2 separate regions of the Homo sapiens genome follow, and region 2 is linked to region 1. The links come from fine-mapping of genetic effects on gene expression. A gene starts in region 1. The other region holds a variant in brackets. All regions are shown on one strand. Distances are between the middles of the regions. Region 1 holds the start of CD151 (CD151 molecule (Raph blood group)). Region 2 overlaps TSPAN4 (tetraspanin 4).

The links. PIP is the estimated chance that this variant, and not a neighbour inherited with it, causes the effect.
Region 2: its variant is the best candidate, but not a certain one, in a credible set for the expression of CD151 in whole blood (INTERVAL, PIP 0.83).

The regions. Positions count from the first base shown.
Region 1 is chr11:830,470-835,601 of GRCh38, forward strand. CD151 (CD151 molecule (Raph blood group)) reads left to right here and starts at 2,483. Exons shown (of 9, transcript NM_004357.5): 1 at 2,483-2,557; 2 at 4,061-4,122. It overlaps CRACR2B (calcium release activated channel regulator 2B), which reads left to right. Exons shown (of 9, transcript NM_001286606.2): 6 at 152-244; 7 at 397-563; 8 at 755-826; 9 at 1,066-1,517. The coding sequence ends at 1,240. RefSeq lists silencers at 1-306, 2,159-2,808, 2,819-3,048 and enhancers at 646-1,185, 1,186-1,723, 3,880-4,419.
Region 2 is chr11:855,677-861,180 of GRCh38, forward strand. All of the region lies in intron 3 of TSPAN4 (tetraspanin 4), which reads left to right. Among named protein-coding and RNA genes, the nearest start is that of TSPAN4, 16 kb to the left of the region's middle. RefSeq lists enhancers at 3,249-3,782, 3,783-4,316, 4,317-4,849, 4,850-5,384. The variant G/GCACCCCGCTCACA (reference allele first, on the strand shown) is at 2,958.

The DNA.
Region 1 (5,132 bases):
GATCCCACTGGGCCTCACGTATCACCCCCGTCCGGTCTTCTCCACCCGACCCCGCTCCGCCCGGGCCCACTCCCAGCCCCTGGCCCTCCGTGTACCTCTTTTGCATGGCCGAGCGGCCGGCGGAGGCTCAGTGGTCCTCCGTGCGTCCCAGAACTTCGCCCGCGGGGAGCGGAGAAGCCGTCTGGAGCTGGAGCTGCAGAGCCGCGAGCAGGACCTGGAACGCGCGGGCCTGCGGCAGCGGGAGGTGAGCACCCGGCCCCTGCCCTGTCCCCACGGTCACCCGTGCACTCTCCCCCTGTGCCTTAGCGTCCCCGGGTTGTCGGGAGCCTGGGGCACGCGCAGCACCCCGGGGAAGAGGGGGCGTTCCTCGCCGGTCTCCATCCTTCCACCCTCCAGTTAGAGCAGCAGCTGCACGCCCAGGCTGCGGAGCACCTGGAGGCACAGGCCCAGAACTCCCAGCTGTGGCGGGCGCACGAGGCGCTGCGAACGCAGCTGGAGGGGGCGCAGGAGCAGATCCGCAGGCTGGAGAGCGAAGCACGAGGCCGCCAGGAGCAAACCCAACGGTGCCGTGGGACGGGGCTGGGCGGGCCCCGGTGCGTGTCCCGGGGGCGGGGCCGACGGGCGCTCAGGTCTGGGCCACTTTCATCCCCATCTCAAGTCCCAGGCCCGCCCCGTGGGAAGGAGGATCTTCTAGGGGGTCCGGGGGCTCCCCAAGGAGCCTTCCTGCAGCCGGGTCACCACCTCCCATCCACAGAGACGTGGTCGCCGTCTCCAGGAACATGCAGAAAGAGAAAGTCAGCCTGCTACGGCAACTGGAGCTGCTCAGGTACGGTCAGGCTCAGGCCCGAGAGGGAATGGGCTCAGCGGAGCTTGGGGGCTCCCAGCTCCCCAACATTCTTGGCTGCCGCTCTACTCCATTGGAAGTCCTTCCTTATGCCTGCCTTTCACCCCTCACGCTGCAGCCTCAGCCAGACACCTCTCTTCGCTCTGAGGGGAGTCGGAGCTCACCTCCCCCCACCTTGAGCTCCCTCAGACCCTCTCAGTGTCGGACTCCTCCTTCCCTAGGGAGCTGAATACACGGCTGCGGGATGACAGGGACGCCTGCGAGGCCAGGCGGGCGGGCAGCAGCTGCAGGAAGGCTCTGACAACAGCCCGCCTGCCTGGGCCCACCTGCTGCTGCTGCTGTTGCTGGGCTCGGCCCCCCAGACGCGGCTCTGGCCACCTTCCCAGTGCCCGGTGACCAGCCCCGAGTGACTCACGGACCATGAGCTAGAAGCTGCCCTTGCAGGAGGCTTGTCATGGGTCGGGGGTGCCCACTCAGGATGCAGGCTCTCCCCAGTGGGCCCCAGGCTCGCCTGACTGAAGACATGAAGGACCTAGCCTAGGAGTGGTCAGGGTCCCGGGAGTGGCCAGGGTCCCGTGTGTGCCCTCTGCCAGTCTTCGCTCTGTCCCCGTTCAATCAACCCCATCTCAGTTCAGCAGAAAACCCCCTCGTCAAATAAAACCCACTGACTGCACTGCGTCCTCCTGGGCCTTCCGTGTGTCTGGGAGCCACAGCCTGTGTGTGCCACATGGATGAGGTGGGCACCTGTGCACGCGTGCTGTGTGGGTGAATACAGGGAGCGCGGGCCTGTGGCGATGGGGCTGAGGTCCTGCGTGTCCTCTTGTGTCCCTGGTCATGCCCCAAACTCACACTACCCATCAAGGCTGGAGCCCCTCGGGGCCCTCGCCAGTGTGTGGATCAGGGCTCCCCACTGTCTCGCCAGGGAGGCCGGGCAGGTTCCCGGCCTCAGTCGGCCACCCCCTCCCATGCTGGTCCTCCCCTGTGGCTGTGATGAATGAGCTTGGTGGGTGGGCAGCCCCCTCCTTCCTCACTCCCACTCTTGGCGTCTTGGTGCAGCCCTAGGCCGGCCCTGCCCTTCGTCCCTCACCTCCTCGCACCGCTCCCAGTGGTCCCTTCCAGTCTGGAGGGCATGGGCCCCCCAGGACCCCATGGGTATGTCTCGCTGGGACCCCAGGCCTGCCCGGGTCTCCAGGCTGTCCACACTGCACGTACAGTAGCCCTTCTCCCGCATTTGCCCACAGCGCTAGGCCCTCCCACGCCCCAGGCCGGCATCGGTTCTGCCGACCCCTGCAGCCTCTGGGCGGTTCCTGGGTGAGGAGAAAGAGATGGGGGTTGGGCATGGAGGAGGGCCGGGTCGCCACAGCCCAGGGCCTCTGGCTAGGCTGGTCGCCGTCTTACCTCCGGGCCCGCCTCCCGCCCAGCTCCTCCGTCCTTGGACGGGATGGGCCCTTGCTGGGCTATTGGCGCCCCCAGGGCTGCAGCTCGCCCGGCCTCCGCAGTGCCAGGTCGACCCCCAGCGCCTACACCCACGCGGGTTCAGACCTGCCGAGCGCCCGCCGCCGCGGGAGGGGCTTGAGGCCGGGGCGGGGCCGGGGCGGGGCGGGGCGGGGCGTCCCCCTCGTAGGCTCCGGGCCGCGCATTCTCAGCGCTGGGAGCCGCCGCCCCCGCAGCTGCTGCCGCCGCCGCCAGGGCCCGGACTCGGACGCGTGGTAGGTGAGTGCGCGGCCACGACAGCTCGGCCGAGCGGGGCGAGCGGGGCGAGGGGGGCGAGGGGCGCGAGGGGGGCGAGGGGCGCGAGGGGGCCGAAGGCCCTGCGCGCCCCAGCCCCGGAGGCCCAGCCGCAGGCGCCGGGAGGTTCCGGGAGGCCGCACCCACCGCCTGGCCCAGCTCCCTCGCCTGCCCCAGCTCCCTCGCCTGCCCTTCCGCGGGAGGCGGACTCCGGGCGGGTTGGGGAGGCGCAGCGGGAAGGAGAGGCGCCTCCCGGGCCCTTGGACCGGCCTGACGGCCCCCTTCAGCCCAGGGGTCCCGGGACGCGCAGCCTGGACACCCTGCTCATTGTCCCTGGACACGGCAGTCTTCCCTCCGCCCGCAGCAGCCCCCGCCCGCGTGCAAGTGGGCGCGCCATTGGCCGCGCCGGGCGGGGTCGGCGGCGGCGGTGACCTCATTGCAGTGCCCCGGGGACGCTTGGCAGGCGCGGAGTCCCAGGTCCCCCTGACTGGGGCTCCCCCTGATAGGGCGCGGGCCGCCCAGGGGCCTGGTGCAGGTCCCGGGGACTTGGGGAGGAACAGACAACTATTTCTGGAAGGCCCTTTCCCAGGGGGTCCAGAGGGACCAGGCATTCCTGGGAAGAGGGGCCACTCCTCAGCGGGTCGCCTGTGTCCTCGCGGTGGAGGACGCATCTGTGCCCAGAACCAACTTCTCCAGAAAGCCTGGGACCTTACAGCCAGGCCAGGGGCAGGTCCTTGAGGGGCTCACACATCCCCCCATCGGTGGCAGACGCACACCCCGCCCCCCGGTGGCAGACACATCCCCCCGCTGGTGGCAGGGTCTGCCTGTGCCACCCTTCCTGCGTGTATTTAGGCCCTGGCTCCTTCATGGAGGGTGAATATCCCCTCTCAGCTCAGTGGTAAGGTCTGTCCCCCTCCAGCTCCATTCCATGATGCCTCTTTCCCAGGCTGTAGCTGCCGCTGTTTGTGGGGGAAGGGCCAGTGATGGGTCTGGAGCGAAGGCCAAGAGTGGGGCACCTGGGGGAAGGTATGAGGTCCCTCCCAGGATCAGACTGTCCCGAAATGTCGTCTGCCTTGGGAGGCCAAGGCGGGTGGAACATCTAAGGTCAGGAGTTCGAGACCAGCCTGGTCCACATGGTGAAACTCTGTCTGTACTAAAAATACAAACATTAGCTGGGCGTGGTGGTGGGTGCCTGTAATCCCAGTGACTCAGGAGGCTGAGGCAGGAGAATTGCTTGAACTCAGGAGGCGGAGGTTGCAGTGAGCTGAGATCGTGCCATTGCACTCCAGCCTGGGTGACAGAGCGAAACTCCATCTCAAAAAAAGAAAAAAAGAAAAAAACAAAATGTCTTGTGCCTTGCCCCACCCTAGCCCAGACTAAAATACCGGGCTTGGCCACTCCTCTCTCTGCCTCCAGAATGAACCCGGCCCACTCTGGCCCTTGGGCCAGACCTGTAACCTGTGACCTGACATGTCCTTGCCCCTCTAGCCTAGAGTCCTGGGGAGCTTCTGTCCACCTGTCCTGCAGAGGAGTCGTTTCCAGCCCGGCTGGTGAGTGCTGGCCAGGGTGGGGCAGAGCAGGCGGGGCGGCGAAAGTCCAGACCTGGCTGTGCTGTCTGGAAACGTGGCCCAGGGCGCTCAGCTGCTGTCTGCACCCCACGCCCTCCCTGGCTTCCCCATGCTCACAGCTTGCCCACTGCTGCAGGTCGGGCGGGCACGGGGCATCTGGGGAGGGGCATAGCCTGTCTGTGCTGCCCCCTCAGGTTGGTGTGGGTCGCCTGTCCAGGAAAAACCCTCCCAGTCTGCCAGGCTCCACCTGCCTCCACGCTCCATTCTCCCCACCCCGGCCAGGATGAAGGAAGGGCTGCCCTTTAACAGACCGTAAACAGGCCTGGAGAGCTTAGGAAGGGGCTGAGCTGGGGCCTGTCTGAGCCCCTACCCCTCTGCTGTCTGAGTGGCCTCCTCCGCCCTTACTGCAGGCCCATAGGCTCCTGCCAGCCTGTGACGTGCGGCCCCGGGAATGCCGTGGGGAGCGGGCAGGCTGGCATGAGCTCACCGGAGGTACCCGCTAGGGCTTCCTCCCCCGGCCGCTAGCAGGGGTGAGTCAGCAGTGATGGCGGGAGGTCCTCCATGACCCCTGTCCTGTCTGTGGGCACCAGGGGTCTGTCCTGGCTGTCAGGGCTCCTGAGTCGCTAGGAAGTGACACGTCCTGTTCCCACAGGGGCTCATTCACAGGCCTCCCAGGACAGTGGCTGGCTCTGCCCCGACTTCTGGGCTGGCTTGGGTATCTGTGTCCCCTCTTTTTTTTCTTTTTTATTGAGATGGAGTCTCACTGTCGCCCAGCCTGGAGTGCAGTGGCACCATCTCGGCTCACTGCAAGCTCCGCCTCCCGGGTTCATGCCATTCTCCTGCCTCAGCCTCCCAAGTAGCTGGGACCACAGGCGCCCACCATCACGCCCAGTTAATTTTTGTATATTTTTGATGGAGATGGGGTTTCACCACAATGGCCAGGCTGGTTGTGAACTCCCGACCTCAAGTGATTGCACCTGCCTTGGCCTCCC
Region 2 (5,504 bases), 25 kb after region 1:
CGCTCAGGGCCCACAGCTTTAAGGAAACAAATCACAGCGAGCCACACAGATTGTAAGTGGACAGACTTGTCATCCCTGGAAACCAGCATCCCAGCCATGACGGGGACGTTCCCGCCAGCCCAGAGGGTCCTGAGGCTGTGCTGGCTGCTAGCATCCCTGTGTCTGGACAGAGCCCTGGCCCCTGCAGGGACCCAGCCCCCCATCCTATTCCAAGGACGTGGCTGGCAGCCCAGCCATCTGCCACAAAGCCGCATGGCCAGAGGGGCAGTGGGCTGAGGGCTGAGAGCTGGCCAGCGTGGCCCCCGTGGGCCCGGAGGGAGCATACTCGATGGACTCCAGTGACTGCACCCCTGCCCAAGGCCTACAGGAGGCTCAAGGGGGCCGTCCCGCAGCACCTGCCCAAGAGGCTCAGGTGGGCTGTCCAGACTGGAAAAGAAGGGCAGAGCAGAGAATGCATGGGCCTCAGCAGCACCTGCACACGCCCAGCGCTGGGGGACGGCCCCCCGAGCCTCTTGGGTGGGTGCTGAGGGACGGCCCTCCAAGCCTTTTGGGCTCCTAATCTTGGGCAGAGCCATCAGTTGCTGCTGAAGATCAGGGTGAGCGAGTGTCTGATGGACTGAGCCTGGGGCCTGGTATGCTGGACGGACATTGGCCAGAGATGGTCTCACGCAGGTCCTGGGGACAGGTTCTGGGCAGTGGACAGTGTGAGCTGATGTCTGGGAGAAGGACAGGCCCCAGGCACCGCTGACTGGAGGTGAAGAGGTCTGGGACGGAGCCCCTCTCCTGGGCTGTTCCCCCAGCTGCCATCATTCCTAGGGTTCCTCTCCCCAGCTGTCATGGGGCGGGGTCAACCTCCCACCTGAGCTTGTGTCTGGCCTGCGGCGGGGCAGCAGTGAGGGAGGGAGGCTTTCAGCCTATTCCTATTTGTATTGAGCGTGTGGGGAGGGAGCTCCTCTGGTTTCCGGGTCCAGGCCCAGATGCTGGGTGGGACCCTGGGAGGGTGCGCAGGCTGCCAGCCACACCCCTAGCTGCTCCCCATCTGGCTGCATTTGACCAGAGGGACCTGGCCCTCCTGGCCTCAGCCCTGCTCATCCTGCTTTTGATTTTCTGTCTCCAAGCTAATGGGGCCCATTTTCTCTTGCGCTTTGAGGCTATAATTTTCCTGCCAAAATGTTTTAAAAGCTGCATATGCAGAAACACTTTCAAAATTGCAGGTAATTTTATTAACCACGTGCACGCATTTTATCTGTGTGGGTCTGCCAGCACGCTGGGGCCTCGGGGCCCGGGGGACGCCAGGTTGCAGGGCGGTAACGCGCGCGTGTGGCCACGTGTGATGGTGTGAGGCGTCTGTGGCAACGTGGGCTGTTGTCTGTCACAGTGTGTGTGACCGAGCCCGTCTGGTGACAGTGGGTGTCTCTTTCCTGCCGTCTCCGGTGGAGGTGAGGATGTTTCGTGGAGTGTTAATTAGGGAAATCAGTTCCCACCAGGGCTGGGGCAGTTGTGGGAGGGGCCCAGGGCTGGAGGTGTAGGGTTCCTTCCTGCCCAGCCCCCATGGAACGGGGTTTCCCACACCTGGCATGGCACCAGTCACTCTGCACATGTCCTCCCTGTGTCCTTCGACACATCCCCATGGGGCGAGGGGAGCTTGGAACAGCTCATTTTCCTGATGACAGGAGAGGTCTGCGTCCTTGGAAGGCAGAGGCAGATGGAGCAGGCAGTTTGGGTTTTTTTTTTTTTTTTTTTTGAGACGGAGTCTCACTCTGTCGCCCAGGCTGGAGTGCAGTGGCATGATGTCTGCTCACTGCAAGCTCCGCCTCCTGGGTTCACGCCATTCTCCTGCCTCAGCCTCCTGAGTAGCTGCGACTACAGGTGCCTGCCACCACGCCCAGCTAATTTTTTGTATTTTTTAGTAGAGACGGGGTTTCCCCGTGTTAGCCAGGATGGTCTCCATCTCCTGACCTCGTGATCTGCCCGCCTCGGCCTTCCAAAGTGCTGGGATTACAGGTGTGAGCCACCACGCCCGGCCCCAGTTTGGGTTTTAAATGACAGTTTTCTCTGTTGTGCTAGCACCTCCCCTCAGTTCAGGGACCTTCACCCCCAGCCTGGGCATTTCGTCTGGAATGAGACTTGTGGGGTTGCTTGGCGCTTGAGGCCAGGATGTACTCTGAGCTGCTGATGGCCATCTCCTCTCCTGGGGCCTCGTTTCCCTCTGACCTCCTGCCCTCATCACCTGGTGATCTGGACCCAGGGCCATATCCCTTCTCTGCCCAGTTCTTGGGGCAGTGATGGTGTCAGGCCGTTTGTGGGTCCCCCTGGTGCCCTGTCTGCCCCTCCACAAGACCTGGGAACTGCGGGAGGATATGGGGACAGCCCAGGGGCAGGCTGGGGTTCCTGTGTGCTCGGGAATGCCCCTCAGTTCCGCATGGCCTTGTCTGTACATGGTGTGTGTGACCTTGTGCCCGACGGTCTGGAGGGACCATTGAGTGGGCCATTGCCTGTCCAGGCCTCTCCTGTGCTCCAGAATGTTACGAGGGACACCTCTCCAAAGGGGTGGGTGGGGGCGCCGCGTTCACAGTCAGCACCCTGGACAGCCCATCCCCCAGCTGCTGGTGCATCCCATAGCAGGGCCAGGTCCCCCGGGAAGTGGGGGCATCTTTGTAGAGCTGGCAGACCCCTGCCCACCCTGGGGCTGTGCCCCAAGCCCAGTGCTCCCAGTGAGGACAGATTCTCTTAATTAGGGATGTCCCCTGGCACTTCTGCCACGGAGCTGGCCTCTGGTCCTGCACACTCCAGACACATCCACCCTGGCTCACACACACCCTGGCTCACATGCACCCCGGATCCCACCCCCGCTGACACTCACCCCGGTTCCCATGCACCCCAGGCTCACATGCACTCCCGGCTCACACGCACCCCTGCTCACACGCACTTCGGCTCACACGCACTCCGGCCCACAC[G/GCACCCCGCTCACA]CACCCCGCTCACACACCCTGCTCACCCAGTTCCCACGCACCCCAGGCTCCCACGGACCTCCGCTCACATGCACCCCGGTTCCCACACACCCCAGGCTCCCATGCACCTGGCTCACATTCACGCCCGCTCACACGCACCCCGGCTCACATGCACCCCCGCTTGCATGCACCTCGCCTCCCACCCCCGCTCACACGCACCCCCGGCTCGCATCCTGGGCTCCCATGCACCCCCGGCTCCCATGCACCCCTGGGTCACACGCATCCCCGCTCACACGCACCCCAGCTCTCACGCACCCCCGGGCTCACACCCCCAACAGCTTGCACCCCCGGCACACATGCACCCCGGCTCACACGCACCCCTGGGTCACACGCATCCCCGCTCACATGCACCCCAGCTCTCACGCACCCCCGGGCTCACACCAACAGCTTGCACCCCCGGCACACATGCACCCCGGCTCACACGCACCCCCGGGCTCACACGTGCCCTGGCTCACACGCACCCCTGGGCTCACATGCACCCCGGCTCACACGCACCCCAGGTCACACGCATCCCCTCACATGCACCCAGGCTCACACACCCACCCCCAGCCCACACTCATCCCCGCTCACACACACCCCCACTCACACACACCCTGGCCCACACGCACCTTGGCTCACGTGCACCCCGGCTCACACGCACCCCCCCTTTCACACGCACCCCGGGCTCACACGCACCCCGGGCTCACACGCACCCCCCCTTTCACACGCACCCCGGGCTCACATGCACCCCGGCTCACACGCACCCCCTCTCACACGCACCCCGGCTCACACGCACCCCCCTCACACGCACCCCGGGCTCACACGCACCCCGGGCTCACACGCACCCCGGGCTCACACGCACCCCCTCTTACACGCACCCCGGGCCCACATGCACTCCGGCTCACACACACCCTCACTCATGCACCCCGGGCCCACACGCACCCCAGCTCCCATGTACCCCTGCTCACATGCACCCCAGCTCCCATGCATCCCGGGCTCACACACAACTTGACTCACACGTCTCAGGTTCATGCATCCGTCCCCTGGTGCGTCTCCGGGCCGCCCTCCACCGGGCTGTGCTGGCTGCCACCCCCAAGCCTCTTCCTGGTCTCCTGGGAAGCCTCCCCTATCACCCTAAGCTGCTTCTGGGGCTGGCTTTGCTCAGAAGCCACACCCAGGCTGGGCACTGTGCCCAGGTCTCCTATTGGCTCCCTGCAGCCACGAGGGGCTGTGTGGTCAGAGCCAGCAAGTCAGCCCCTGCCTCGGTACTCCCAATCCTGGGGCCCAGAGCACAGGGGTGACCCCTCTTCCTGCACCCAGTCTGTCCAGCTCCCCTGTGCGCTGTGCCTGGCCTGCTGGGGAGGGGCTCTGGGCGTGGGTGTCAGAGCTCAGCAGGCACCAGGAGCCAATGGCTCAGCAGAGCTTCCCAAGATAGGTCCTGCGCTGGCAGCCTCCGGACAGCGTTCTGTTTTGAACTTTAAGCGGAGATGCTACCTCTGGAAGGCCGGGGAAGGACAGAGCCTGCCTTCTCCCCAGGATGGCCTGAGCGTGTGTGGGACTTGTGGGGCCCCAGCAGTGGGGGGAATCTGCTCTGAGGGGATTTTACCCTGTGGAGCCCAGAGGGACCGAAGACACCAGTGACAGGCCTGGCCTGAATCTTGGGGCACCAGCAGCCATGCTGGCCCTTGGGCAGGGAGCTGTGTCCCATCTCCCCAGCACAGCCTCCTGCCTGCCAGCCAGCCAGTAAAAGGGTGGCGGCCTCCAACCTCCAGCCTGGCGCTGGCTGATGCACTGCTCAGGGAGGGGCAGGTGAGCGTGCACACGAGGAGGGGGCATCTCCCACCCCCAGGCCCCCTGAGGCAAGAGTGTTGGGGCTCATGGGCCCTCCGTGGGCCCTGCCAGGGTGGAGGCCCCAGGCCTGTCTTGAGCTGGGCTGGTGTTGCAGGTGGGGGTGGGGCGGCTGCTGGTGGCCAGCAGCTATCCCAGCCTTGGTTTCTGTCTGGAAAGTGGGGTGTGAGTCTGGCCACTGGGGCTTGGGAGGCTTTTATGGGGTGACTTGGGGCTTCTGGTAGTCCCCCGGGAACCCCCAGAGCCTGGGGTCTGAGCCTGTCCTCAGGCATGTGGTCTGGGTGCTCCAAGGGGTTTCATCAGGTTGAGGGGTGGCTTTGCCAGCCCATTCCCAAGTCCTGTCCAGTCCAGGGTGGGGCAGGGATCCCCCAGGGCTGCGCGGCCCTTCCCCAGAACCAGTCAACCGTCGGCACCCCAGGACGTCTACCCACCACCCACCTGGGCACCCACGCTGCAGACCGGGAGCTGGTCAGCATTTTCGGGGGACTGCTTGTCCCGTGCCCAGGCCTGGAACATATCTCCCGTCTCATCCTGAAACGGCCCAAGCCCGAGGCCTCTGTCTGAAGGTGGGGTCCTGGCGGACCCCTGCTTCCCTTGAGGCCTTGCTGGGCCAGCAGCCTAGCACCCTCTCTCTGGGCGCAGCACCCCCTCGTCTCCCCCTGCCTCTTCCTGTTTTAATTG